Regions from separate parts of the Homo sapiens genome. Here all the other regions are reported to be linked to region 1. The links are microRNA targets in miRTarBase. Many come from high-throughput screens and were not tested one by one. Region 1 holds a microRNA gene; each other region holds the end of a gene's coding sequence.
What was found. Region 1 holds the annotated microRNA hsa-miR-185-5p (UGGAGAGAAAGGCAGUUCCUGA, at 2,892-2,913, opposite strand). A microRNA usually pairs through its seed, bases 2 to 8, with sites in the 3' UTR of a target mRNA and lowers its output. Matches are read on the target gene's strand: a 7mer-m8 pairs with bases 2 to 8, a 7mer-A1 pairs with bases 2 to 7 and ends in A, and an 8mer does both.

Region 1 (4,103 bases):
CAGGCTGATAAGAACAGACAAAATGAGCTATTTTGCAGGCTAGTAAACTTTCAGCTTAGACTGAACTTCTTTGGTTCGGGTGAAGGCAACTAAGTGCGGGGAAAGTGGAGGCCGACAAGCACACATCAGCTATCCAAGCAGGGTGGCCTAGTATATCCTGTTTCTTCTGTAGTTTGCTGAGCTAAGCCAATTTAAGACACTTTGTCTTGGAAATAGACCACTGTATACATTCTTCCTTCAAGACTGTCCCCCACATGCACATCTCCTCCCCTGCAACAGCACCAAACCCACCCCACACGCCACCAGTGGGGGCAGCCCTGCCTCCGCCTCCAACAGCATGGCCCACTCACCTGGGATGCAGGCCCTACAGGTCCTGCTCAGCACACACACTCGCCATCCCACAGGACCCGAAGGCCCCACACACCCACAGCAGCTGGCATGGACACGTGCCGGGGACACGCTGGGTGACTGCACACTTAGCATACACCTCGTCCCCACCCAGGGACCTCTGGGGCCCAGAGCAGGCAGTTTTCCACAATGCAAACGAGTGCAGAACGGAGATTAGATTCCGAGGCCACCCAAGGGTGACACCCAAGTTCCCTGAAATGTGCACATGTGCAATGATTTAGTGACACGGCTCCAGGGCAGAGCCAGTGCTCACAGCTGGGACATGGGACAGCCAAGAAGCTGTTCAAATACTGAAGAGACCCAAAAAGATTCCTCTGAGAAAAGTCTAATGAGTGGGGACGGAGGTGAAGAGGGCTCAGTGTATGTGCCTCCATAGGCACGGGCATTAGGGATGGCCATTGGGGACCATCTGCTCCAGTGAGGAGCTGGTGGCTGTGCAGTTGAAGTATTGGGATAGCAATAAGCGCCACGTGCAGACGCACTGGGTCAGGGGGATGGGCAGCCATTTGAGATGGTCTGCTGGCCACCACTCTGCATAGGATGGGAAGCTAAAGGGTGTGTTGTTGCAAGGGGGCCCTGTGGGAAGCAGACTGTGGGGCTGGAAGTGGGTTGGGTCCCCTTGCCGGGTGCCCTGGAAGCGCCCACAGGGGGCCATCATCCGAGGGTGGGCAGGCTACTAGGGGCAATCCTTTTGGTAAAAACAACTCAAGATGCTGGATGAAATATGAAAACATCTTAAAAATTGCCAGGAGCTGATGAGCTCATGCAGCATTTGGCCAACAGTTCGGAGAGCGTGGCCCACAGAGGACAGCAGAACACAGTGGCCAATCCTGCCTGAGAGCGTTTGCCCACTGAACACACTGGGGCTCATACTCTGGTGGCCTCGGGGGCGAAGGAGACAGAAGACAAGGTCCAGTCACCCCCACAGGATGAAGAACCTAACAGAAGACTCTCCTCTAAGTTAGGCTGGGACTCCAAAGAGCGATGCTTAGGGAGAGATGAACTACAGCCGCAGCCACCCCCAGGGGTTATGGGGACATTGCACATAAGTGAAGGGAAGTTTCTGAGAAGCTGTGGCACAGCCAGCCGTCCAGGTCCACACTGGGGGTACAAGGACCCACAAGCCAAGCACAGTTTTAAGGGGTTCCAGCACTCGTAGTGCCCCTGTGCCTGAAGTTCTCTCTGGAGAAAGATACCTTCATCCTATACTTCAAAGAAGTCTCAAAATCATTTTTCAAAGACCAGAAGCAGTACATAGTCAGAAAGAACCACATAATGAAAGAAGCACCATGAGCAAGAACCAGCAGAAAGATAACCGTACATGCATCATCAACCAACCATGCTCTGATGGCAGAAAGAAAACAGACAGCTCAGAAACATCTGCAGGGCAAAGGAAGTGATGAAGAGCAAACTGGGTTTACAAAGCAGCAAAAGGAACTCGGTTTTTTTTTGTTGTTGTTGTTTTGTTTTTGCTCCTGTTGCCCAGGCTGGCTGGCATAATCTCGGCTCACCGCAACCTCCGCCCCCCGAGTTCAAGCAATTCTCCTGCCTCAGCCTCCCGAGTAGCTGGGATTACAGGCATGCGCCACCACGCCCAGCTAATTTTGTATTTTTAGTGGAGACGGGGTTTCTCCATGTTGGTCAGGCTGGTCTCCAACTCCTGACCTCAGGTGATCCACCCACCTCGGCCTCCCAAAGTGTTAGGATTACAGGCATGAGCCACCATGCCTGGCCAAAAGAACTCTTAGGAAGCTATTTTAGAAATGAAAGCTTCAGTGACTGCACATTAAAGCTCAGCTGTGGGTTTAAGAGCAATCAGGTGCAGCTGATGATGCAGAACCATCCCGAATGCAGTGCAGGAAGATGGGGAACACGCTGGGCTTTGGGAGTGCACCCAAGGTGCCACTGATGGGGTGGGCCCAGCACTCACCATGTGGCCAGAAGACACAAGTCCCTTTACTCTGGAGGAGCTGGTCTTTCCTGCACATGAGAACCCCTGGCTGCAGTCACTGGAGAAGCCCTGCCAGCTGGTCTCTACTGGAATCCCACTGGCCTGGAGCCCAGGGCTGCCCAAGGCCTGCTCACCAGGGACATGCTCCTCTGGGGTGTTAGAGAAGGCCGTTGGTCTCAATCAACTTCAGCCGACCTCAGCCCTCCCTGGGCTGCACGCCCAGCTGCTGGCAAGGCCATGGATGAGGGCAGTTCTGGCCACTGATACACGTAGGACAGACAGGCAGAAAGGCACCCCCAGTTCAGCTGCAGGACCCCACCATCCTAGCTGGCCAGGGTGCAGGGGCAGCAGACCAGCCCTCCAGGCACCAGTGGCAGGGAGGGCTCCATGGTCCAAGGGAAGGCCATAAACAGATCTCCGGACAGCCTGGCACTGGAGGTGTGGGCGCAGAGCCAAGGGCTGTGGCCTCGACGAAGACGCGGTCATTGGGAGGGAAGGACCAGAGGAAAGCCAGCCCCTGGGGAGGGGACCATCAGGAACTGCCTTTCTCTCCAATCCCTCGCCCCCTGCTCGAGCCAGGCCCACTGCCCACCGGCCCCCAACCCAGCTCTAGCCAGCAGGTCTCCCCCTCCCCCTGCCAGCTTCACCTCCCCCGACCTGTGACCTTGCCTTTGCCTGGGCCCCTGTGTGCTCCCTAAGCCAAGCCCTGCAGGTTCCCTAGGTCCTACAAGGTCCCCACACAGGCCCACCACAGCATTCCAACACCCTCTCATGCCTGCTGACTTGCCAGGCTCTGGGAGGGAGCCATGGATATAGTCCTTGTCCTTTTGGTCACCATATCTTGATCTGGGCGCAGGGCATGTGGGCACACGGGTGGCCAGGACCACTTCCCACAACTTCCACAGGTCCCATCACACCAGGTGAGGCTGGGCTCCTCAGGGCATCTCTTGTGCCACACAGAGCTCGCCCTCAAGGTTGCCCGAATTGGCCAACTCTACAGGAGGGTTGGTGTCCCAGGGAGAATCGTGCCTGGCTTTCCAGGTGAGGCTCCGCCCTGCCTGTCCCCACCCCTGCCCTGGGCTCAGCACTTGGGCCAAGCCCAACCAACTCTCAGCATGTCCTTGGCAGTCCAAGAAGGCCAGAGTGGTCAAAGCCATGCAGGGTTGGCCCTGAGGCCCAGGCGGCCAGAACCAGACCACAAAGAGCAGCTGGAGGAAGAGGCAGGCAGGAGGGTCTGGGGTCCAGTCAGCAGCCTTGCCCTGGGTCTCAGAGGCCACAGCCCAGAAGCATCTGAACATCTGCAGGAAGCCACGCCCAGTCTCTGCATCCTGCACAGGACCCCGCCTGCCCCAAGGGGCTAAGACCACCAGGGCAGCCTGCACACAACCACCAGGCTTGCAGAAGCAGTCAGATGGCCACACGCCCATCCTCTCCAGGCGGAAAATGCTTACCCCTCTCCATTCTGTCAACTGGCCTCACGGCCACCGGGATAGCAGTTGGGCAAGTAGGTTACAGGGCGGGTGGGGCAGGTGACGCAAAACCTGGCTGCCAGGGCGGGTCCAACCCCAACCGGAAGGAGGCTGGGCCAGGGCACCACAGGTGGGAAGATGCTGATGAGCTCCTCCCTGTGCTGTGTGCTCTGCAGCTGTGATCTCATCTCAAGAGTCCCAGGTCACATGGCAGGGATGGGCAAGGTGAGCCTGGAGGGGCTCATGGTGGGGCACCTGCTGGTTGGGCTAGAGGT
Region 2 (4,103 bases), not on the chromosome of region 1:
GATTCATCAAGAAGGCAAGGGTCAAATACTGCAGAGACGTCAAGGTGAGGATCGAAAAGCCAATGGATTTGTCAATTATAAGCTTAATAGTGACTTCACAAAGGTGGATGGCTAAGGTAGGAACCTTAGCATGTACCAAGTGTGCAGGAGGATACGTGATAGAGAGAGCATGGGTCCAAGAGTCAGACAGACTAAGGTTTCAAATTCCAGCTCCACCATGTACTAGCAAGTTACTCAACATCTCTGTGCCTCTGTTCATTTGTAAGTGGAGATAACAATAGTAAATACTTAATAAGGTTGTTGTGAGGCTTACATGAGCTTAATCGTGTAAACCACTTAGTACAGTGCCTAGCACACATGAGATGCCATGTTCTATCTATTGGCTCAGAGCAGGAATCATAAACCACTGAAGGTATCTCAGGCAGAAAGATAATCAGTTGTCTACAAAACCATTGGGCTACATAAGTGGAAGTCAGGGGAAGTCAGGAGGCTGCCACTGGACTAATGGCTTCAAGGTCATATCATTGCAGTTGTGATCCACATGTTAGGAGGCTGCTGCCACCACTACAGTCTCTCACTCACAAAGCTGTGAATAGACACACTGGAATGTGGAGTACAGAAGCCACAAACACATCTTTGGAATCACCTGCTGGCCACCAAACCCCAAGAAGATAGCCTCTGCCCAACTTAAGCCTTCCAAATTTTGTTGGCAGAAGTGAACATGTATCTGAACCCACATTTTATCCAGAACCCTAGCTGCAAGGGAGTCTGGGAAATTGATTTTTCAGCCTTTATGTTTTTGGAAAGAAACAGAAAAGGGGTAGGAATGCATGTGGAGCAGCAGATAATTTCCACCTCATCAATCTTTAAGTGGAACGAATATTTCCATCCTGAGTGCTGACACCAGCATTCCAACTGTGGTCAAAATATAGGATTATCACTGATTGACAAAATCCTGCCAAATTCAAAGAGGAATCAGGACAGGAATAAATATCAAGGGATAAGCTTGAGCAGGAAAATACATTTTTCTCTAATATCAAAAAGCAGATGGTGAGCAGGGATATAATTTATAGGTTTGGGCCAGAAGAAGAGAGGTAGAGAAGTTAAGGAAGGTTCTGTCTCAGGGCATGTATTATCTCTGTAAAGTTGGGAGCAAATGTCATCTGCCCTGAGTGAAAAAGGTTGAGACTGGCTAGAGGGCTTGGTGAGAGCAGACTAGCTAATGAGGGAAATGGGAGAGGAAGCTGACACAGCACAAGAAATCTTTCTGCACACCGGCTAGCAAAAAAAGAAGCAAAAGACTTATTTTTATAAAGCACTGTTTATTTTTATGTATTGAAAATGTCCATTTTAAAAGTCTTCAAAATAAAAACAAGTTAGAAAATTTGAGCTTGTGTTAAGAAGGGGAAGGACAGAAAAGGAACTGAAAGGCCTCTACGGGCAGCAGTTTAATTACAGGGCAACAGGAACCCATTTATAGAGTATTGTAAACAACACAACTATGGCGACACTGCTCTCAGATTAACATGGCTTCATTTCCTTTATATTATAGTTTAGTGTGTAAGCATGGTTACCACTCTGCACAAGCTTCGTTATCCAGAGTACCGAGGGCCCCTCATCAGAAGGGCCAAGTCCCCGAAACATGCATATGTACTCATCACTGTAAAATGAAGACCTTTCAATATTTTCAGCAATCAACTAAAGTATTCCGTAATCACAAAAATGTTTCCTATAGATGCAGTTTGCACATTTATTGCAAGCCATTGACTAACCACAGAATGGGCAGATGTGAAGATCTGTGTTGATGTTGTTGGTGGTGGTGGTAGTACTGATGTTTTTAATTTTTAAGTGAAGGATGTTATATCTAAATGGCTGTGCTAAAAAACAGAACAACAGCCATTCCTAGAAATTTCTTTACTCTTCAGCTTCCAAACACGGCTGTGTGTGGTTGGCTGATGTTGGACTGCAAAAATAGTCCATTTCCTGTGGATGGTGTAATTTCTGCTGTGCAGCAAGCAGACAACAGCCCTGTACCATGTAGCTATGGGACCTTGAGACTCTCAGTACCAAAAATAAAAAGGGCTCCTCAGCAAGCTGGGGGTTTCAAACTTCAAGTTTTGTTTTTTCAGAGACAGAGGTGTCTCTCTGTTACCTAGGTTGGAGTGCAGTGGTGTCATCACAGCTCACTGCAGCCTTGACCTCCTGGGCTCAAATGATCCTCCCACCTCAGCCTCCTGAGTAGCTGGGACCACAGGTGTGGGCCACCATGCCTGGCTTCAAGTTTGGTTTTTAAACAATATTTGCAAAACCCACATTTATAGGCATCCATCAAATATATTATAAAGGCAATTCTGATCAGCCCTTTGGCCTCAATTTCCAGTGACCTTCCCCATCTGGCCAAATTTCTCTTGTCTTTTGGGGAGGGAGGGGTGAGTGGCACTGAGCCTTAGGCCAACTTTCAATGGCGCTGAATTTGGATGTGTGCTGTTCTGTGACTGTCTTCTAAACCTGGTTTCTCACAGTTCTAGTTTCTGGGATAAAGTGGATGATGTGATTCAATGAGCAACTTGAGTTAATCAGTCCTGAATAATCCAGCACACAGCTACTAGAGGGGCCCTTTTGTTCTGGATGTACAAGTTGGACCAGAAGCATATTTCTGCAAATACTGCTTAGAGTCCCACCCAAAGAGGCCAATTAATATTACAACTTCTCACAGCATATATGAGAGAGTAATAAAGTGAATGAAAGCTGTCTAGTAGGGCACAATATCTTCTTAATGCAGATTGTTTTGAAGGATAAAACATCACAGTTTGAATATGCAACGTACATAAAGTAACTCCTCACAGTCTAACTACATTTTTTTAAAAAGTAAGCAAAGCACATACATACTAGTTTACACACCACTTGGTAAGGTTGGCTAAAAGTACTGGGGAAATAGAAAACTTACACACTAGGCAGAATGAGGGAAAGAAACCTATCATGCAATGGGAAAAGGCGGTCAACTCTGCTACTAAAAGGGAGGATTGTCCAGTAGAATTTGCTGATGGATTTGGTGTTGGTGTGGGTGACCAGAGCTTCTGCCCCCCTGAGTTACAATTTACATGACACAAAAGGAATAAGGGTACTACAGTTTTCTTGGTCTTATAGACAACATAGGGCAGTAATTTTAAAACCTGTGATTGAGGGGAGGCATGTGATGGTCTAAGGAAGGGCAGCTGGATCATTGGGCAGATGTGTTTGTCTTTCATCCTACTCAAGCCATAGTCTGGAAGATTTGCCTTCGGTAAATTAAGTACTAAGAGGCTTGCAGGTACAGGAAAGCCCTGGGGAAAAGTTGGGTTCACATTTAATAAGCCTTGGCCAGCTGCTTTGCAAGGGCAGCCAGCCCAAAGAATGTGACCTGAGGGCAATGGCTGTTGCAGAGGCACTGTGAACTGAAGGCAATCTGAAGACCTTTTAAGTAACTGGCCTGCATTCCCTTTCTCTTTCTTACTGAATGGAAAAGACTCTGAGGCCATCTCTACCACCACTTCCTGCTTTTTCACCTGTTGAAAAAAAAAATGAACAACCAACCAATAACCAAACAACAGCAAATGCCCAAGCGCGCACGTGCACGCACACACATATGCACACAGCGGGGAGAGAAAGAGAAGAGAGAGGGAGAGAGAGAGAGAGACTCAAACACAAAACAAAAGCCAAAGAAGTGAGCAAACTGAGTCAAATCATTCAGCGGGACATTTCAAGATGCCCTGAAGGCACACTCCACCCAGTGGCACAGTGATGGTTATGGAAGAATTGAGGTCTTGCTACTGGACTCGCCTCGAATACACTCATCTGTTTGCTTCAAAAGCCTCCGCACCAGCTTTTCTAGGTCCCTTCTTGATTTCAGTTCTTCTTCCAGGCATTGCTTCATTCTTTTATTTTCCTATGATGGGGAAAGATTTGTTGATTATCAAACAGAGGGGGGCCCTTCCAAGGGCTCCTCCTGCTCATCCTCGGGGCAGCTTTCATCACTGACTCTCTTTCTTTCCTCGACCTTCCCTCCCTCAGCATCTATGACAAAGCAGCCTGTCGATTCTCCTGCCTGTCTCTGGGAAACCTTT
Region 3 (4,103 bases), not on the chromosome of region 1:
GCGATGTCGCACTTCCTTTGGCGACAAAGCCCTGCATATCGCGGTGCCAAGCCCCCTCCCCCGCCCCGGGGCCCAGGCCGGCCTCCCAAATTCTCCTGAACTGAAGAGATCCAGGTCCGGCGTGCTGAGAACGAGGCCAGACCAGGGGGTCTTACGGGACCCCATCCCCACCCCAGACGATTTCCGGGGGGAGCCGCAACCCGGAAATGAATGAGTTGTCAGGGCTTGGTATCCTGGATGGGGTCAGGGGTCGGAGAAGGAGTGGCAGTGGGATCAGCAGGAAGCTCTCGGTAGGGTCCGGGGGTCGAAGGTCACAGGTGAGTGGGAGGGGCGGGCCGGACCTGAGGGGACCGGGCAGAACGGAGAGGGGCCTAGGGGGATACTAGAGGTGGGTGGGACCACAGCGCCATTTTGTCTAGCAGAGGGGGAGTGGGGGCCTGGAGGCCATCCTCACCATCTTCTGTTTCCTCCGTCGCCGCCTCGGCCGCCGCCTCAGCCTCCACCGCCGCCACCAGAGCCGCCTTCTTAGCCGCCGCCTCACAGTAACTTCCAGCCACGGCACAGCCCACACTGATGGCGCCACCACCTCCCTGTCATTGGTGTGCAGTCTAGCCCCGCCCCCACATAGGAGCGCTTTGCACGCTTCCATTGGCCGCATCCAGCTAACTCATGCGCCCATTGGTTGCCACGCCTCCTCCCATTGTGGTCAAGTTCGGTTGAAGAAGCAAAGCACCTCCCGGTACTTGGAAGCAATGAAAGTGAGATCCGGAAGTGGGCGGAGGCCTCGGCCGCGAAGTCTCTTGGGAGCTGTAGTTTACAGCTCCGCGAGGCTCTCTAGAGCTTTTGTGTGTCTGTGTGTTTTTAAGATGCGAGGTTCGGCCGGGTGCGGTGGCTCACTCCTGTAATCTTAGCACTTTGGGAGGCCGAGGCGGGTAGATCGCCTGAGGTCAGCAGTTCGAGACCAGCCTGGCCAGCATGGTGAAACCCCATCTCTGCGCCTGTAATTCCAGCTAGTAGGGAGGCTGAGGCAGGAGAATCACTTGAACCCGGGAGGCGGAGGTTGCAGTGAGCCAAGATCGTGCCATTGCACTCCAGCCTGGGCAACAAGAGCGAAAATCAGTCTCAAAAAAAAAAAAAAAAAGCCAGCCGGGCGCAGTGGCTCACGCCTGTAATCCCAGCACTTTGGGAGGCCGACGCGGGTGGATCACGAGGTCAGGAGATCGAGACCGTCCTGGCTAACACGGTGAAACCACGTCTCTACTAAAAATACAAAAAATTAGCCGGGCGTGGTGGCGGACGCCTGTAGTCCCAGCTACTCCGGAGGCCGAAGCAGGACAACGGCGTGAACCGTGAGTGAGGCGGATCTTGCAGTGAGCTGAGATCGCGCCACTGCACTCCAGCCTGGCGGACAGAGGGAGACTCTGTCTCAAAAAAAAAAAGGCGGGGCACGGTGGCTCACGCCTGTAATCCCAGCAATCCCAGCACTTTGGGAAGCCGAGGCGGGCGGATCACGAGGTCAGGAGTTTGAGACCAGCCTGGCCAACATGGTGAAACCCCATCTCTACTAAAATACAAAAATTAGCCGGGCGTGGTGGCGGGCGCCTGTCATCCCAGCTACTCAAGAGGCTGAGGCAGGAGAATCGCTTAAAACCAGAAGGCGGAGGTGTCAGTCAGCCGAGATTAAGCCACTACAGTCCAGTCTGGGCAACAAGAGCTAAACTCCCTCTCAAAAGAAAAAAAAAAAAAAGACACAGGGGTCTTGCTATGTTTCCCAAGCTGGTCTCGAACTTCTGGCCTCAAGCAATCCTCCAGACTTGGCTTCCCAAAGTTCTGGGAGCCATCGTGCCGGCATCTTCTTGTGTTTATTACGTTTTTAAAGCAGCCCTAGAAGATAAGAACCATAACACTCCCTAGCTCCTCCTCGACACCGTCTTGCTCAACCACCTCCCGTAACTCCCTAGTATTCAATCCCACCTCCTTGGCCCCATTTATGGGCACCTGCGGTCTTCATTGCCCACCTGTGTCCTCACCTCTAACCAATTCCTTCTATGTCTGGGCTCTCCCAGACCTTGCCATTTCCTCCAAGACTTCCCTGACTGCATTCTTCAAAAAGGCAAGTCAGGTACCTTCCCTGAAGTCCTACAGCCCTCACAATCCCCCTCCCAGCCCTGACACCTCTGTGTCCAAACTGCCTTCCTGACTTCCAGGGCAAAGAATGGGCACCCAGCACACAGCAATTGCACAGTGAAGTTGCTAAGTGGAAGCTACTAAGTATTATTACTCCAACAGCAACAGAGCAGAGGAGAAACCAGCACTGCATTTTATAGGCGACAAATGCACCTCACAGTGTTAAATTCTTGCTCAAAATCAAACATCCCCAAGGGACAAGTGGAAGATTCAAACTCCTTATGGGCTGGAGTTCAAGACCAGCCTGGTCAACATGGTGAAACTCCCCTCTACTAAAAATACATAAATTAGCTGGGCGTGGTGGCATGCACCTGTAATCCCAGCTACTTGGGAGGCTGAGGCACCAGAATTGCTTGAACCCAGGAGGCAGAGGTTGCAGTAAGCAGGGATCCGACAACTGCACTCCAGCCTGGGTGACAGAGCGAGACCCTGTTTCAAAAACAAACACCCCCCCGCACACACACACAGTTTTCCACCAGTCTTCCCAGACCTATAAAATTTATGACACAGGCTGGGCATGACGGCTCACACCTGTAATCCCAGCACTTTGGGAGGCCGAGGCAGGCAGATCACCTGAGGTCAGGAGTTCGAGACCAGCCTGGCCAACATGGTTGAAACCCCGTCTCTACTAAAAATACAAAAATTAGCCGGGTGTGGTGGTGGGCGCCTATAATCCCAGCTATTCGGGAGGCTGAGGCAGGAGATTGCTTGAACCCAGGAGAGGGAGTTTGCAGTGAGCCGAGATCGTGCCACTGCACTCCAGCCTGGGGGACAGAGCGCAGTGGTTCATGCCTGTAATCCCAGCACTTTGGGAGGCAGAGGAGGGCGGATCACCTGAGGTCGGGAGCTCGAGACCAGCCTGACCAACATGGAGAAACCCCATCTCTACTAAAAATACAAAATTAGCCGGGCGTGGTGGCGCATGCCTGTAATCCCAGCTACTCGGGAGGGTGAGGCAGGAGAATCGCTTGAACCCGCAAGGCGGAGGTTTTAATGAGCCGAGATCCCCCCATTGCACTCCAACCTGGGCAACAAAAGGGAAACTGTCTCAAAAAAAAAAAAGAGTTATGACACATATAAGGCAAGTGGAACTTTGAACATTTATTACACGTTTAATAATATTTCAAAATTATTGATAATTCTTTTGGATGTGATAAGCTTTGTAATTGTCTTTTAATGAGCTCTCATCTTGGAGAGATACATTCTGAAATATTTACAGAAGAAATAATCCGATGCCTGAGATCAGCTTCAAAAGAACTCAGGATGGGGCAGGGACGGGTTGTAGGTAGTCGGTAGTCAGGGTACTGGGTACACGGATGTTCTTTGTACTGTTCTTTGGTCTGTTGCGCAGGTTCGAAATGCTTCCTAATTAAAAAGCCTAAAAAGGGACTTGGCAAGCTCCCATCCAGACTTCAACCCCACAATATGGAGAGCACTCAGGTCCGAGGCGTTCCTGCTCCCCAGCTCCCTGCAAAAATAGCGCCAGGCAAGGTCCGAGGCGAGGGCGATGCTTCCATGAGGGTCCCGCCGACTGCGTCGCGATCCTCAATGGCTCAGCGACTTGCGGCCCTTGAGCATTCGGCGAAGGATGACCTGCACGCCGGCCGGCGTGCTCAGGCGCCGGACCCAGCCGTGCTTGTTCTTGCGTTTGATGTTGCTCGGCTGATACTCATTCCCGCGAGCCTTGCCCCGGGCCTGCTGCGGGGTGGGGAGGCCCCAGGCGTCTGGGAACCCCAGCCAGGCCCGGGGCTGGAGCCACCTGCGTGGGTAGAGGGACGGCGAGAAAGGTCAGACGGGGCGCTGGGTGACCTTGGCGCTCAACCTCTCTGAGCCTCGGCTCCCGGAGACAGAGCCTGGCTGCAAAATGCGCAAGGCACTGGCAGGTCACGCGGGCAGTGAAGAGTGGCGCCAGCCTC
Region 4 (4,000 bases), not on the chromosome of region 1:
ATGTGAGAACTAAAGGTTCTTATTTGGGGGATTTGGGATGTTCCCTTCTATGTTAGTTCTGTAAGATGGAAATTCTTTGCTCTGGACCTCACAGAGCACTGTACCTCCCTGAGATGCTTAGGACATCAGAGAAATTAACAGAAAAGCTAGAGCCTCCAATCAGAAAAGATCACAAACAACAGAAATGCCCCCACATAATAAAGAGTGCTTGTATTAGGATACAGTAGCAAAATCACCCCCACATCACAGTGGTTTATTCTGACCAAAGCATTTATTTTCATTCCATTTACATAGGAGGTGGCATTGTAGAAAATAAAAACTTTCTCAAAGAGATATGAATTAAAGAAAAGTTAGAGTAAGGTGAATACTTATTTAAACATACCTTTAGAGTGAGGGTAAGCCCCCTTCCCAACCCAAAATGAACTGAATGAGAGAGAAAAAGAGGTCCAGAGTAGTTTGTGGAGCGATGTTTCCATCTCTAATGCCACTCAGCTCAGGAGCAGGCTTCAGACACTGCCTTTATCTTTACAGAAAGCCATGGGAAGGGAAATGTCTGAGGTAGAGCTCAGCGTTGGGCATCATATGGCTAATCACTCAGAGGTCACTAATCACTCTCCCTTTTCTTGTTTTTCAGTGAACGAGATAATTGGGAGAGACATGTCCCAGATTTCTGTTTCCCAAGGAGCAGGGGTGAGCAGGCAGGCTCCCCTCCCGAGTCCTGAGTCCCTGGATTTAGGAAGATCTGATGGGCTCTAACAGTGCTTACTGCAGCCTTGTGTCCACCACCAACTTCTCAGCATGTTTCTCTCCTTGGACCTTGGGTTTCCAACTCTGCAGCCTTCAGGTCTGGGGCCAGGAGTGGGACCCACCATTTGTGGGGAAAGTAGCATTCCTCCACCTCAGGCCTTGGGTAGATTTGGCAAAAGAACAGGAGCAGCATAGGCTGTTTGAGCTTTGGGGAAATGAACTTTGCTTTTTATATTTAACTAGGATACTTTTATATGATGGGTGCTTTGAGTGTGAATGCAGCAGGCTCTCTTGTTTCCGAGGTGCTGCTTTTGCAGGTGACCTGGTTACTTAGCTAGGATTGGTGATTTGTACTGCTTTATGGTCATTTGAAGGGCCCTTTAGTTTTTATGATAATTTTTAAAATAGGAACTTTTGATAAGACCTTCTAGAAGCAAAAAAAAAAAAAAAAAAAAAAAAAAGAAAAAAAAAGAAAAGAAAAAAAGAAAAAGAAAAAAATATCCCAAGCCCACACCTATGCCTCAGAAAGTCAGCATGTGTCCTGAAGACGTTCATAGATTTATAGGAAATAAAGCCAAATGTAGCTCATACCTCTTTATAAAACTAAACTGTTGTTAGATAAAATGAGAAGAGACCATTCCATCATTGAAGTGTTGGAATATAAAAAGACATTCCAGAGCATAGCCTTTTGGTAACTTTCTAGGTAATCTTGCAATCTCTCCATACTGGCTCCATGTTGAAATTGCTTTTTCCCTCAGGACCCTGGGTAAGATGGCTACATTTAAGGTGACTCTGAATGGTGGGGTTCTAGCTTGGTCACTTTCATTTCTTGCCATCATAAAAACTAGTAGGCTGTGGAGTGCGCTTCCTGTTTGTGTCATCTGGTCGTAGAACCTTTTCCAAACAGAAGCATCTGCCTTTGGCTGTTCTGTGACCTTTGAAGCCAGTCTCAGTGGTTTAGGCAGCTTTGCAGTTCTAACTCTAGCTAGAGGCCAGGCTGTGTGCAGAGCTAAAGCACAAATGAGCAGTACATCAGCATGGGCAGAGAAAATACAGGACTCCAGATGGGAAGGTTTTAAGAGTCACACTGGCATGGAAGGCTTATCTGCCATTCTATTTATAGCCTGAAATGATTCTGGCCTACCCTGTCCTGTCTGTATGATCTAAAAACCAGCCTTTTCCCCAGAAGGCTCTGAGCACATCCAGAAGTGATAACCTGACCCTCCACACCAAAGACACCCTGGTGCTGCTGCTGGTGAGACTGGTGTCCAAGGCAGGGCCCAGCAGAAACTGCAGCCTGCTGTCTACCAAAGGAGGTACCCGAGTTGGGTACTTTAAAAAAAAAAAAAACCTGCCCTTACCCCTCTCCCTAATGGGATTTTTTTTACCTGTTCCTGGGCCCATTACAGAGCCTCTGAAGTTTGCAGTATGCTTTCAAATGAAATAATATACTTCCATTGATTCAGGAAGCAGATTTTTTGAGTGCCTATATGTGAGACAGTGTGCTGGTTGAAGGCCTGATGCTGTTATTCCAGGAGACTGCAGGCCCTTGATGCCAGGACTCTCTCTACTAAGGCCAGTTCAGGTCTGGGAAAGGGAGCTGGCCTATTGCCCACCACCTGTTGTCAGTAGGTTAGGAGCTGTTGACTCAGGATGAGGAAGTATGGTCTTTAAAAAAAACAAAATATATTTTAGATTTCTCCCCTAAAGTTAGTTAGAGAAAAAGGTCTATTCTTCAGCAGATCACTGTGGCCCCTCTTGGAGCTGGGTGTTTTCAAATTTTCTTGAAAAGTGAGTTGTGTCACAGAATGTGGATAGTGAGATTTGCTTCTGGGCCTGTGGTTGGACGCCCACAGCTTCCTTTGGAGGGGCAAGAAGTTGGCCTCTCGGTTGACATTCCAGAGAAATGGCCAGACTTGCCCCTACCCTTTTGCCCCTGGTGTAGCTGCCTCACATGAGGTTATTGCAAGAGTTCCCCTTGCAATACCCTTTGTGCCCTCAAGAATTAAAAGCCTCTATGATCCAGAGTTGCTATGCACCAAATTTTGATGCCTTCTAAATACCTTGATGCCTGTAGCACTAGAAATGCTTTCCTATTTAAAATAAACATTAAATTTTAAAATAGAGCTTTGTATACTATGTAAGCAGTTTTATATCAGCTTTGTAAAAGCTTTGGTGTTAAGAGTCAATATTTTTTGGCTTTGTAGATAAAGACTTAAATTTTTGTGCAACATAGTGGTGTTAAAGCACACATCCATTGGACTATGCAAATCAATTTCTACTAGCAGCACTGAGCAACTGGGCACGTGCTAGTACGCACCCCCTCCTACTCTAACTGTGCTAGCTCTTGGGTTGAGGAATGGAATGGGTAGCCTTCTGCTTACTGGAGATGCACAGAGAAACATGGCTGAAAACAGCTTTAAAAAGAACATGTCTTTGGGTTCATGTGTGGTGCTGCTGCCCGGGTGTAAACTATCCCCACCCAGGGCCAGCCATTATCACCAGACCTCTTCTGGGCCTGGCTGTGAAGCCCTGTTTTTGGTATTCAGAATGGATCTTTAAGGCTCAGATGGGCTCAAATTGAAACCTTGTGTTTTATAAAATGGATGTTTAGTAAAGGAACTGGTTCTCAGTTATGTTTACAGCACTTGGAATTGTGTGTTCTTGTACATTTTGTATTTTAAAACCTTTTATGGGAGTGCAGTGCTCCTTACACAAATACAAAGGGAAGAAGAGCCAGCAGTTGAGGCTCCTCAGTTTTAGTGCTGAAATAATAAACAGTGACAGGTCAACAGTATCCTTAATCTGTCTGAGTGTTCCTCCGCCTGGGGTTGGTGTGGAGCCCCTCACTTTGGGGCAAAGTTAAGGGTCCTGTGTCTTTTAAAAAGTCCATTTGGTCAATAACTTTTCATTTAAGGAAGAGAAGATCGAGTTCCAAATTGCTTCCGAGGCTTCAGTTCTGTACCATTTAATGCGTGCAAAGGACATTCCATGGTGTCTGCTGGGTTCAGGGCAACTGGCTTTCCCAAGGCATACAAGAAAAGTTGGCAGAAAGTCCTCCCCTTTAAAATTCAAGCCTGAAGGTTTTGTGTGGGGGCCTACTGCCCCCTAATGTCTTCTGGTGATACTGCAGCACAGTCCATCAAAATAGTTTGTGGTTTTGCCATCTGTTACTCCTTATGCCCACCTGGAGAGGGGCTAGCATCTTTAGGTGGGACCACCCCTGGCACAACATGGTCTCTGAGGTCCAGAT
Region 5 (4,103 bases), not on the chromosome of region 1:
CCTCTGCCTCCCGGGTTCAAGCTGGTTCTCCTGCCTCAGCCTCCGAAGTAGCTGGGACTACAGGTGCGCACCACCACGCCCAGCTAATTTTTGTATTTTTAGTAGAGATGGGGTTTCTGCATGTTGGCCAGGATGTTCTCGAACTCCTGGCCCTCAAGTGATCCTCCCACTTCAGCCTCCCAAAGTGCTGGGATTACAGGCATGAGCCACTGCACGCGGCCTCTAGAAAGTTACTTTGAACCCTACTAGTAAATTTGAGTTGCTGACATCTAAGCTGTAAGAACACATTGTCTTATTGCTGAAAGTATTATAGGATGGACCCCAAATTCTGAAGTCACTGGGATTTGGAATCTCCTAATGCCTTCTAACCTCTCATTCAGGCCTGTGATCTTGGACCCAGCCGAACCCACAGGTGACGTGGGTGGAGGGGACCGTTGGTGTTGGCATCTTCTGGCAAAAGAAGCAAAGGAATGGTTATCCTCTCCCTGCTTCAAGGATGGGACTGGAAACCCAATACCACCTTGGAAAGTGCCGGTAAAAGTCATCTAAAGGAGGCGTTGTCTGGAAATAGCCCTGTAACAGGCTTGAATCAAAGAACTTCTCCTACTGTAGCAACCTGAAATTAACTCAGACACAAATAAAGGAAACCCAGCTCACAGGAGCTTAAACAGCTGGTCAGCCCCCTAAGCCCCCACTACAAGTGATCCTCAGGCAGGTAACCCCAGATTCATGCACTGTAGGGTGCTGCGCAGCATCCCTAGTCTCTACCCAGTAGATGCCACTAGCCCTCCTCTCCCAGTGACAACCAAAAGTCTTCAGACATTGTCAAACGTTCCCCTGGGTTCACAGATCTTTCTGCCTTTGGCTTTTGGCTCCACCCTCTTTAGCTGTTAATTTGAGTACTTATGGCCCTGAAAGCGGCCACGGTGCCTCCAGATGGCAGGTTTGCAATCCAAGCAGGAAGAAGGAAAAGATACCCAAAGGTCAAGAACACAGTGATTTTATTAGAAGTTTCATCCGCAAATTTTCTTCCATTTCATTGCTCAGAAATGTCATGTGGCTACCTGTAACTTGAAGGTGGCTACAAAGATGACTGTGGACGTGGGTTGCACTGGCCACCCAAGGATGTCTGCCACACCTCTCCAAAGCCCTCCCTACCTACCAAGATATACCTGATATATTCCACCAGGATATCCTCCCTCCAGATATACTTGGTTCTCTCCACCAGGTTCTTTCTTTAAAGCAGGATTTCTCAACTTTGATACTTACTCACATTTGGGGCTAGACAGTTCTTTGTTTGGAGGCTCTCTTGTGCATTGTAGGATGTTGAGCAGCATCTCTGGCCTGTACCCAGTAGATGCCACCCAGTTGTGACAATTAAAAGTGTCTTGAGACTTTATCATGTGTCTTCTGCCCTAGGTGAGAACCCTTGCACTAGAGGAACCCTACACCCCAACCCTGGGGGGAATGTAGGGAAGAGGTGGCCAAGCCAACCGTGGGGTTAGCTCTAATTATTAAGATATGCATTATAAATAAATACCAAAAAATTGTCTCTGGCAATAGTTACCTTCCCAGATACAGGTCCCCCCTTTTTTCCCCTAACTCTTTTAAGCAATGATTGTAACTATTAGGAGACATTGCTCTCCCACGTATGTTTTTCTTTTTAGACAATGCAGACACCAGGAAGTTGTGGAGCTAGGATCCATCCTATTGTCAATGAGATGTTCTCATCCAGAAGCCATAGAATCCTGAATAATAATTCTAAAAGAAACTTCTAGAGATCATCTGGCAATCGCTTTTAAAGACTCGGCTCACCGTGAGAAAGAGTCACTCACATCCATTCTTCCCTTGATGGTCCCTATTCCTCCTTCCCTTGCTTCTTGGACTTCTTGAAATCAATCAAGACTGCAAACCCTTTCATAAAGTCTTGCCTTGCTGAACTCCCTCTCTGCAGGCAGCCTGCCTTTAAAAATAGTTGCTGTCATCCACTTTATGTGCATCTTATTTCTGTCAACTTGTATTTTTTTTCTTGTATTTTTCCAATTAGCTCCTCCTTTTTCCTTCCAGTCTAAAAAAGGAATCCTCTGTGTCTTCAAAGCAAAGCTCTTTACTTTCCCCTTGGTTCTCATAACTCTGTGATCTTGCTCTCGGTGCTTCCAACTCATCCACGTCCTGTCTGTTTCCTCTGTATACAAAACCCTTTCTGCCCCTGCTGACACAGACATCCTCTATGCCAGCAGCCAGCCAACCCTTTCATTAGAACTTCAAGCTCTCCAAAGGCTCAGATTATAACTGTTGTCATATTTATATGAGGCTGTTGTCTTTTCCTTCTGAGCCTGCCTTTCTCCCCCCCACCCAGGAGTATCCTCTTGCCAAATCAAAAGACTTTTTCCTTGGGCTTTAGCCTTAAAGATACTTGAAGGTCTAGGTGCTTTAACCTCACATACCCTCACTTAAACTTTTATCACTGTTGCATATACCAGTTGTGATACAATAAAGAATGTATCTGGATTTTGTGCCTAGTTCCTAGCACACAGCTTCAAAAATTCTAGAGTTTCCTGATAGGAGTGTCTTTTGTATTCATAACAAGCCCTTTTCACCCATGCCTGGGTTTATGCTAACAAGGTTACCCATGGTGGGCCCTTAGTTTCAAGGAAGGAGTTGGCCAAGCCAGAAAGACCAAGCATGTGGTTAAAGCATTGGAATTTTCAGCCCCATCCCACCCCCAATCTCCAAGGAGGTGATGGGGCTGGAAATTGAGTTCAATTTTAACATGGCCAGTGATTTAAGCAATGCTGCCTATGTAAAGAAACCCCAATAAAAACTCTGGACAGTGAGGCTTGGGGAGCTTCCTGATTGGCAGACATTCCAATGTACTAGGAAGGTAGCGCATCTTGATTCCACAGGGACAAAGGCTCCTGAGCTCTGGGCCCTTCCAGTGCTTGCCACCCTACATACTCTTTGTCTGGCTCTTCATTTGTATTCTTTATAATAAAATGGTGATTGTAAGTAGAGCATTTTCCTGAGTTCTATGAGTCATTCTGCAAATTATCAAAACTGAAGGAAAGTCATGGAAACTCCCAAGTTTGTAACCAAGTCGGACAGAGGTGTGGGTAGCCTGGGGACCCCATGTATGGCTGGAGTCTGAAAGAAGGGTGGACTTGGTGAGGACCTTGCTCTTTAAATTGTGGGATCTACACACATTCCAGGTAGTCAGTGCCAGACTTGACTTAAATTGCAGGACAGTCAGCTGGTGTCACAGATTAGGTGTTGGAATGCACCACTACTCTTGTCCAGGATGCAGGCAAAAGAAATATATATGAAGATGTTGAAAAATGGAAGAATACAGGAAACAAGCATGAGAAGAAAAGGCAAAAATAATTTTTAAAAAGTTTTTTAAATGATAAAAAACATTTAATGAAAGAATGACCACTTTAAGTACACATCTACTCAGTCTACAACTAGTTACCAGGGCCTTCTGGATGCCCAAACTTGCACTAGATACATAGGCAGGAAACACGGAAGCAGAAACTGTGAGACGCTGTCCCCATCCTCACAGGGCTTGGCTGGAGGAACTGGAACACATAGCCCTAAATCCCTTAAAGAAAAATGAAGGGCCAGGCTTGATGGCTCACACCAGTAATCCCAGCACTTTGGGAGGCCGAGGCAGACAGATCACTAGAGATTAAGAGTTTGAGACCAGCCTGGACAACATGATGAAACTCCACCTCTACTAAAACTACAAAAAATTAGCTGGGCATGGTTGCAGATGCCTGCAATCCCAGCTACCCAGGAGGCTGAGACAGGAGAATTACTTAAGCCTGGGAGGCGGAGGTTGCAGTGAGCCGAGATCGCGCCACTGTACTCCAGCCTGGGCAACAAAGTGAGGCTCCGTCTCAAAAAAAAAAAAAAAGAAAAGAAAAGAAAAGAAAAATGAAGGGCAGTTTACCACACGTGCCAAGTGAGATGTATATGATGAGAAAGACCATAAAGAAAAAGGTGAGCTGCTCAAAGCCATACAAATGCAGAACAGGACCATTTCAGTTTTTCTCATCAATGTCTTCTCAGCACTCAGTAGACATTTAAACTCATTAAGAGCAAAG
Region 6 (4,103 bases), not on the chromosome of region 1:
GTTTGTTTGTTTTTGAGACAGAGTCTTGCTCTGTCACCCAGGCTGGAGTGCAGTGGCGCGAGCTCGCTCAGCTCACTGCAACCTCCGCCTCTCGGGTTCAAGCAGTTCTGTTCTTTGTTATGTGTTGTCTGTCCCCATCTGCATCCCCAGAGGGATTGGCAGCAGCACCTTTGATGTAAGAATAGTCAGTGGGCTTGCTGTCTTTGGGTCCTCAGAGAAATGGGGAGGTGAGGAGATGAACTACCCCCTCCACAGTCTGGACAGTGCATTTCTGGAGGGGTGGAGGGAGTGAGGAGCATGGACAGCCCAGCGCTGGGACTGCAATGAGGACTGGAGGAGAAGAACGTAGGAAACAGTTGAAGGAAGCATGAGGAGCTCCCAGAGGGGCCCGGAAACTTGGTACACAGGTTGCATCAATCAATAAATCAACCAATGCAAAGATATCTAACTCTGAGACTTAGAACCATTCATTCATTCATTCATTTGATCAACAAAATTTTAGTGCCATCTGTGCTGTGCCAGGCACTATATGGGGCAATGTTCTGGATGGAGATGATTCAGACCAGTGTCACTCCCAAGCCACTTAAGGCCTGGTGGGGAAGGATCTCAGAGTATGTGATGAAGGGCACATTTTGTGAAGGATGGGTTCTTCAAGCCCATCTTGCAAGGGTTGGGAAAACCTTCATCAGGGATGTTGGGGGGAGTATTGTGGCAGGGGGGAAAGCCACAAGTAAAATGCTGAGTTTGGAAAGTACACAGAGGCATTTTTGGGGAATAGTAAGTGGATGGCCAATGTGTGGGTGAGGAATGAGAGTTAGGACCACAGAGATTGGCTGGGCCACCTTGTGGAACACCTCCCATGTCAAGATAAGGGGTTTCTGTAGGTGGCTTACTGTGTGTCTGGCATGAGGTAGGCACTTCACATGCATCTGTTAACTGTCCTGCAAGGTTGTTATCCCCATCTTACAGGTGGAAGGCCAGGCTCTGAAGGGCTAGGTGACTTGCCAAATGCAGCACAGGCAAGTCACCGAGCCAGGATTTGAGCGCTAAAAGCTGAGCTTTGGAAAAATGCAACCAGAATCAAGTTGAAGGTGGGGAAATGATCGTGCAGCTTGGTCCAGCAGGGAAGAAAACTAAAAAATGTTGATTGGACTTGATTCAGGACCCTGTGGGTCTAAGCTCTTCAAACCCTCAAGTCTGGTCCATGAGGCGGCATCAAATGCGTAGGTGGCCCCAGCTGCTGCTTTTGCTAGTTGTCTTCCCTGGGACACCTTTAAACATGCATACAAGGAAGAAAACAAAGAATTGGTCTGAGCTGCTAAGAGCGGGGCCATCCAAACCATTCCCTTTTAGAGGCCATTCCAGATTCTAGGAAGGCAGCAAAAACAGTAACTGAATGCTGCTTCTGGGGACCCTGCTGACTCTAACCAAGAACCATGGCTCAACCCCACTTCTCCTGCGCTAGGCTAAGATCCAGGACATAATCAGTGATGCTAGAAACACGTCCGTTTCGGAGGGAAGAGGTTTGGGAGGACTGGAAAGGGCCCTGGGGCTAGAAGTCAGGAAACCCCATCCTGACTTGCTGAGTGGCCTCGGGAGAGACTCTTCCCTTCTCTCAGCCTGTCCCCTTCTCTGTAAACGAAAGGGAGTCCAGCTCTTTGTTATCTGACATCCTAAGTGTATATGCAGAACTCTTAAAATGTATCTAGCCCTGTGCCTTCCAAATCACTCCCCTACCCTCAAGGATAGAAATGTGGCCAGCCATTGTGGGGATGAGGAGGAGCTCCAAGGCCAGGCCAGGCCAGCCACATCCAGGGTGAGAGGAGATGCCCCAAGAGTGGAAGGAAGCATTCATCCTATGAAACGAAGACAAGGGAACTAACTTGCTCAGCTCTGTCCTGGCTCCTTGGCACCCATTACCCCTGGGAATCATCATATCTCCATGTGGCAATGGCTTATCACCCCAAGTTTTACACTGAGGAAACTGAGACTCAGAGAGGGTGACTCTCCCGAATTCACATGCCTAGGAAGTGAAAACCCCAGGATGTGAACTGGATCAACTCCAAAGCCCATACTCTTGCCACTCTGTCGCACAAACTGTGTATGAAATGAGATAGGAAAACCTCCCTCACTCCCACCTCCCTCCAAGCAAAGCATCTCGTCCACCCAGGTGCCTGAATTTCTACCATTAGCGCATTGCCTCCCTGGGCTAAGGCCTCTCTCCATGGGCTCCACAGTGGGGAAGGGGCGCAGAAGTAGGAGGCAGAGGCAGGAGGTGAGCACAAGGTCTTTTATGAGGCATCAAATATACATTCTTATATACAAGGAGGAAAAAAGACAATGCCTGAACCCCAGCTCCTCTCCATACAGCCCCTCCCACTGCCACCCTCCCCCGCCCCCAAGCCCCAGTGGCCCTGGCCCTTCGTACAGCCAGGGTCCATCTGTCTGTCTATACTGCAGCCCATGGTGGAGAGGGGAGAGGGAGGCAGGAGCTGAGTGAGGAGCTGGATATGCGGGGCAAGAAGAGGAGCTGGGGCTTGTAAAAAATATATTTATAATAAATAAACAGGGCTGCAAAAGGGCTGGAGAGGCAGCGGAGATTCTGACGGACAGAAGGACTCAGGCATTCTGGCTCCCAACCCCAGCTCTGATGGCTTCAATCTCTGCCTCAGGAAGGATATCTTGGGCTCATGGTGGCCCTTTGGGAGCCTCTCTCCCCAGGGCTGATGCTGGGTGCCCCTGCCCCAGCGAGGTGTGTGTGGGTGATATCTGTAAAGTGCATTGTCTTCAGTTGTAGGTGGGGTAGGTGTAAGGGAATGGCGGGGGGGCATGCAATATGGGTGAGGGAGGGCAGTGCCCTTCTCATCCCAGACCTGAGCCCCCCCCAAAACCTGTCTGGACTTTGATCAGGATAAGAACGTTGCAGGGCGAGGCAAGTTCCTGAAGCCGAAGAGGTCTGGGCTGGGGCCTACTGGAGAAAGGGCATAGACTGGCTCGAGAGAGGAAGCACTGCCCCACGTGGGGCCAACACAAGCAGGGTCCCACCCACCAAGTGCATCAATGGTCCGTGTCCTCCAGCAGGCAAAAAGACACATGGAAGTGTGTGGCCAGGCCCTGAGGTCAGAGAGAGGGCCAAGCCAGCTGAAGTTTGGCCACAACTCTACAGAGCGCTCTCCTAGCCCCACACGGCCAGAGGAGCCCCAGGGAAGCCTTCACCCCGACAGCTCCGGACACCTGCCCTTCTCCGCCAGCCAGAGCTCACAGAGAGCTCACACAGGCCCAGAGGTCTGAGGCCACAGAGCTAGACCTCCAGGGAAAAGTGGGGAAGAAGAAGACGGGAGAAAGAGTACGAGGATCTCTGGAAGGCCCTCACCACTCCCCAGCGCTGGAGCACCCTGAGTCCAGGCTTCAAGTGGCAAGGATCCTCGAATCTGGAAGGAAACCCCATGGCAACTGCTGGGGGTGAGAGGACGGGTCCCAAGGCAGGGAGGACATGGGGAGGAGGACATTGCTATGTGTATATATATTTTTGAAAAAACCGAGGAAGCAAAGAGGGTGCAAGGTCCCTCTCCTGTGGCTCCCCAGACTTTCCTGTTCCCCAGCTCACTCTCTCCATTCATCAGACCACGGTGCTGATCCGGCTTGGCTTGGCCTTGGGGTTTGCACTGGGGGGGTTGGCTGTGCCAGGGGGCCCAGAGGCGTGCAGCGGGCCATGGGGGGAGGTGGGTGGAAGGGGTGAGTGCGGGGTGTGAGGGGAGGGTGGGGGGAGGGGTGGATAGGAGGGGTGGGGTGGGATGGGTGAGTGTGGTGACAATGGTGACTGGGGGTGGTGGGGGTGGGAGTAGGAGCCCCCTGGTGGCCGGGATCCAGGGCCCCCAGCCGCGCCTGCTGCTGGCATCATCTGTGGGTGGTGGCTGAAGATGAAGTGCTTAGGGCCCTGTTTGTGGGCTGGAGGGTGCTGGGGGGCAGGACTGTACAGGGGCAGTGGGGATGTGGGCTGGTGCAGGGGGTGGCGGCCATGTGGAGCAAACTGAGGGTGTCCTCCAGCCCCCCGTCTGGGTGCCCTGCCTGGCCGGCCCAAGGTATAGTGTTGGGGCCCTGGG

Region 2: the mRNA of ARHGEF6 is a reported target of hsa-miR-185-5p. Seed matches in the 3' UTR shown: 7mer-m8 at 3,660-3,666 and 7mer-m8 at 3,639-3,645.
Region 3: miRTarBase lists MRPL34 as a target of hsa-miR-185-5p. Seed matches in the 3' UTR shown: 7mer-A1 at 3,614-3,620 and 8mer at 3,378-3,385.
Region 4: miRTarBase lists NFATC3 as a target of hsa-miR-185-5p. Seed matches in the 3' UTR shown: 7mer-m8 at 804-810 and 8mer at 1,463-1,470.
Region 5: the mRNA of OAS2 is a reported target of hsa-miR-185-5p. Seed matches in the 3' UTR shown: 7mer-A1 at 1,139-1,145, 8mer at 1,217-1,224 and 7mer-A1 at 2,270-2,276.
Region 6: miRTarBase lists IQSEC2 as a target of hsa-miR-185-5p. Seed matches in the 3' UTR shown: 7mer-A1 at 2,584-2,590 and 7mer-A1 at 2,468-2,474.

What each region holds. Positions count from the first base shown.
Region 1 is chr22:20,031,963-20,036,065 of GRCh38, reverse strand. It overlaps MIR185 (microRNA 185), which reads right to left and starts at 2,927; the gene lies at 2,846-2,927. The region is part of intron 1 of TANGO2 (transport and golgi organization 2 homolog); the gene reads right to left. RefSeq lists enhancers at 1,810-1,879, 3,563-3,782.
Region 2 is chrX:136,664,245-136,668,347 of GRCh38, forward strand. It overlaps ARHGEF6 (Rac/Cdc42 guanine nucleotide exchange factor 6), which reads right to left. Exons shown (of 22, transcript NM_004840.3): 22 at 1,306-3,925. The coding sequence ends at 3,785. Among named protein-coding and RNA genes, the nearest start is that of CD40LG, 18 kb to the left of the region's middle. RefSeq lists an enhancer at 2,041-2,130.
Region 3 is chr19:17,306,009-17,310,111 of GRCh38, reverse strand. It overlaps MRPL34 (mitochondrial ribosomal protein L34), which reads right to left. Exons shown (of 2, transcript NM_023937.4): 2 at 3,269-3,946. The coding sequence ends at 3,733. DDA1 (DET1 and DDB1 associated 1) reads right to left here and starts at 549. Exons shown (of 5, transcript NM_024050.6): 1 at 455-549. The coding sequence starts at 457. RefSeq lists silencers at 234-333, 3,927-3,986 and enhancers at 121-684, 774-963, 685-1,246.
Region 4 is chr16:68,225,716-68,229,715 of GRCh38, forward strand. NFATC3 (nuclear factor of activated T cells 3) reads left to right here. Exons shown (of 10, transcript NM_173165.3): 10 at 635-3,544. The coding sequence ends at 756. ESRP2 (epithelial splicing regulatory protein 2) reads right to left here. Exons shown (of 15, transcript NM_024939.3): 15 at 3,318-4,000. Among named protein-coding and RNA genes, the nearest start is that of MIR6773, 5.8 kb to the right of the region's middle. RefSeq lists an enhancer at 1,722-1,771.
Region 5 is chr12:113,008,707-113,012,809 of GRCh38, forward strand. It overlaps OAS2 (2'-5'-oligoadenylate synthetase 2), which reads left to right. Exons shown (of 10, transcript NM_002535.3): 10 at 381-3,017. The coding sequence ends at 549. Among named protein-coding and RNA genes, the nearest start is that of OAS2, 32 kb to the left of the region's middle. RefSeq lists an enhancer at 976-1,145.
Region 6 is chrX:53,230,600-53,234,702 of GRCh38, forward strand. IQSEC2 (IQ motif and Sec7 domain ArfGEF 2) reads right to left here. Exons shown (of 15, transcript NM_001111125.3): 15 at 2,277-4,103. The coding sequence ends at 3,620. Among named protein-coding and RNA genes, the nearest start is that of KDM5C, 7.4 kb to the left of the region's middle.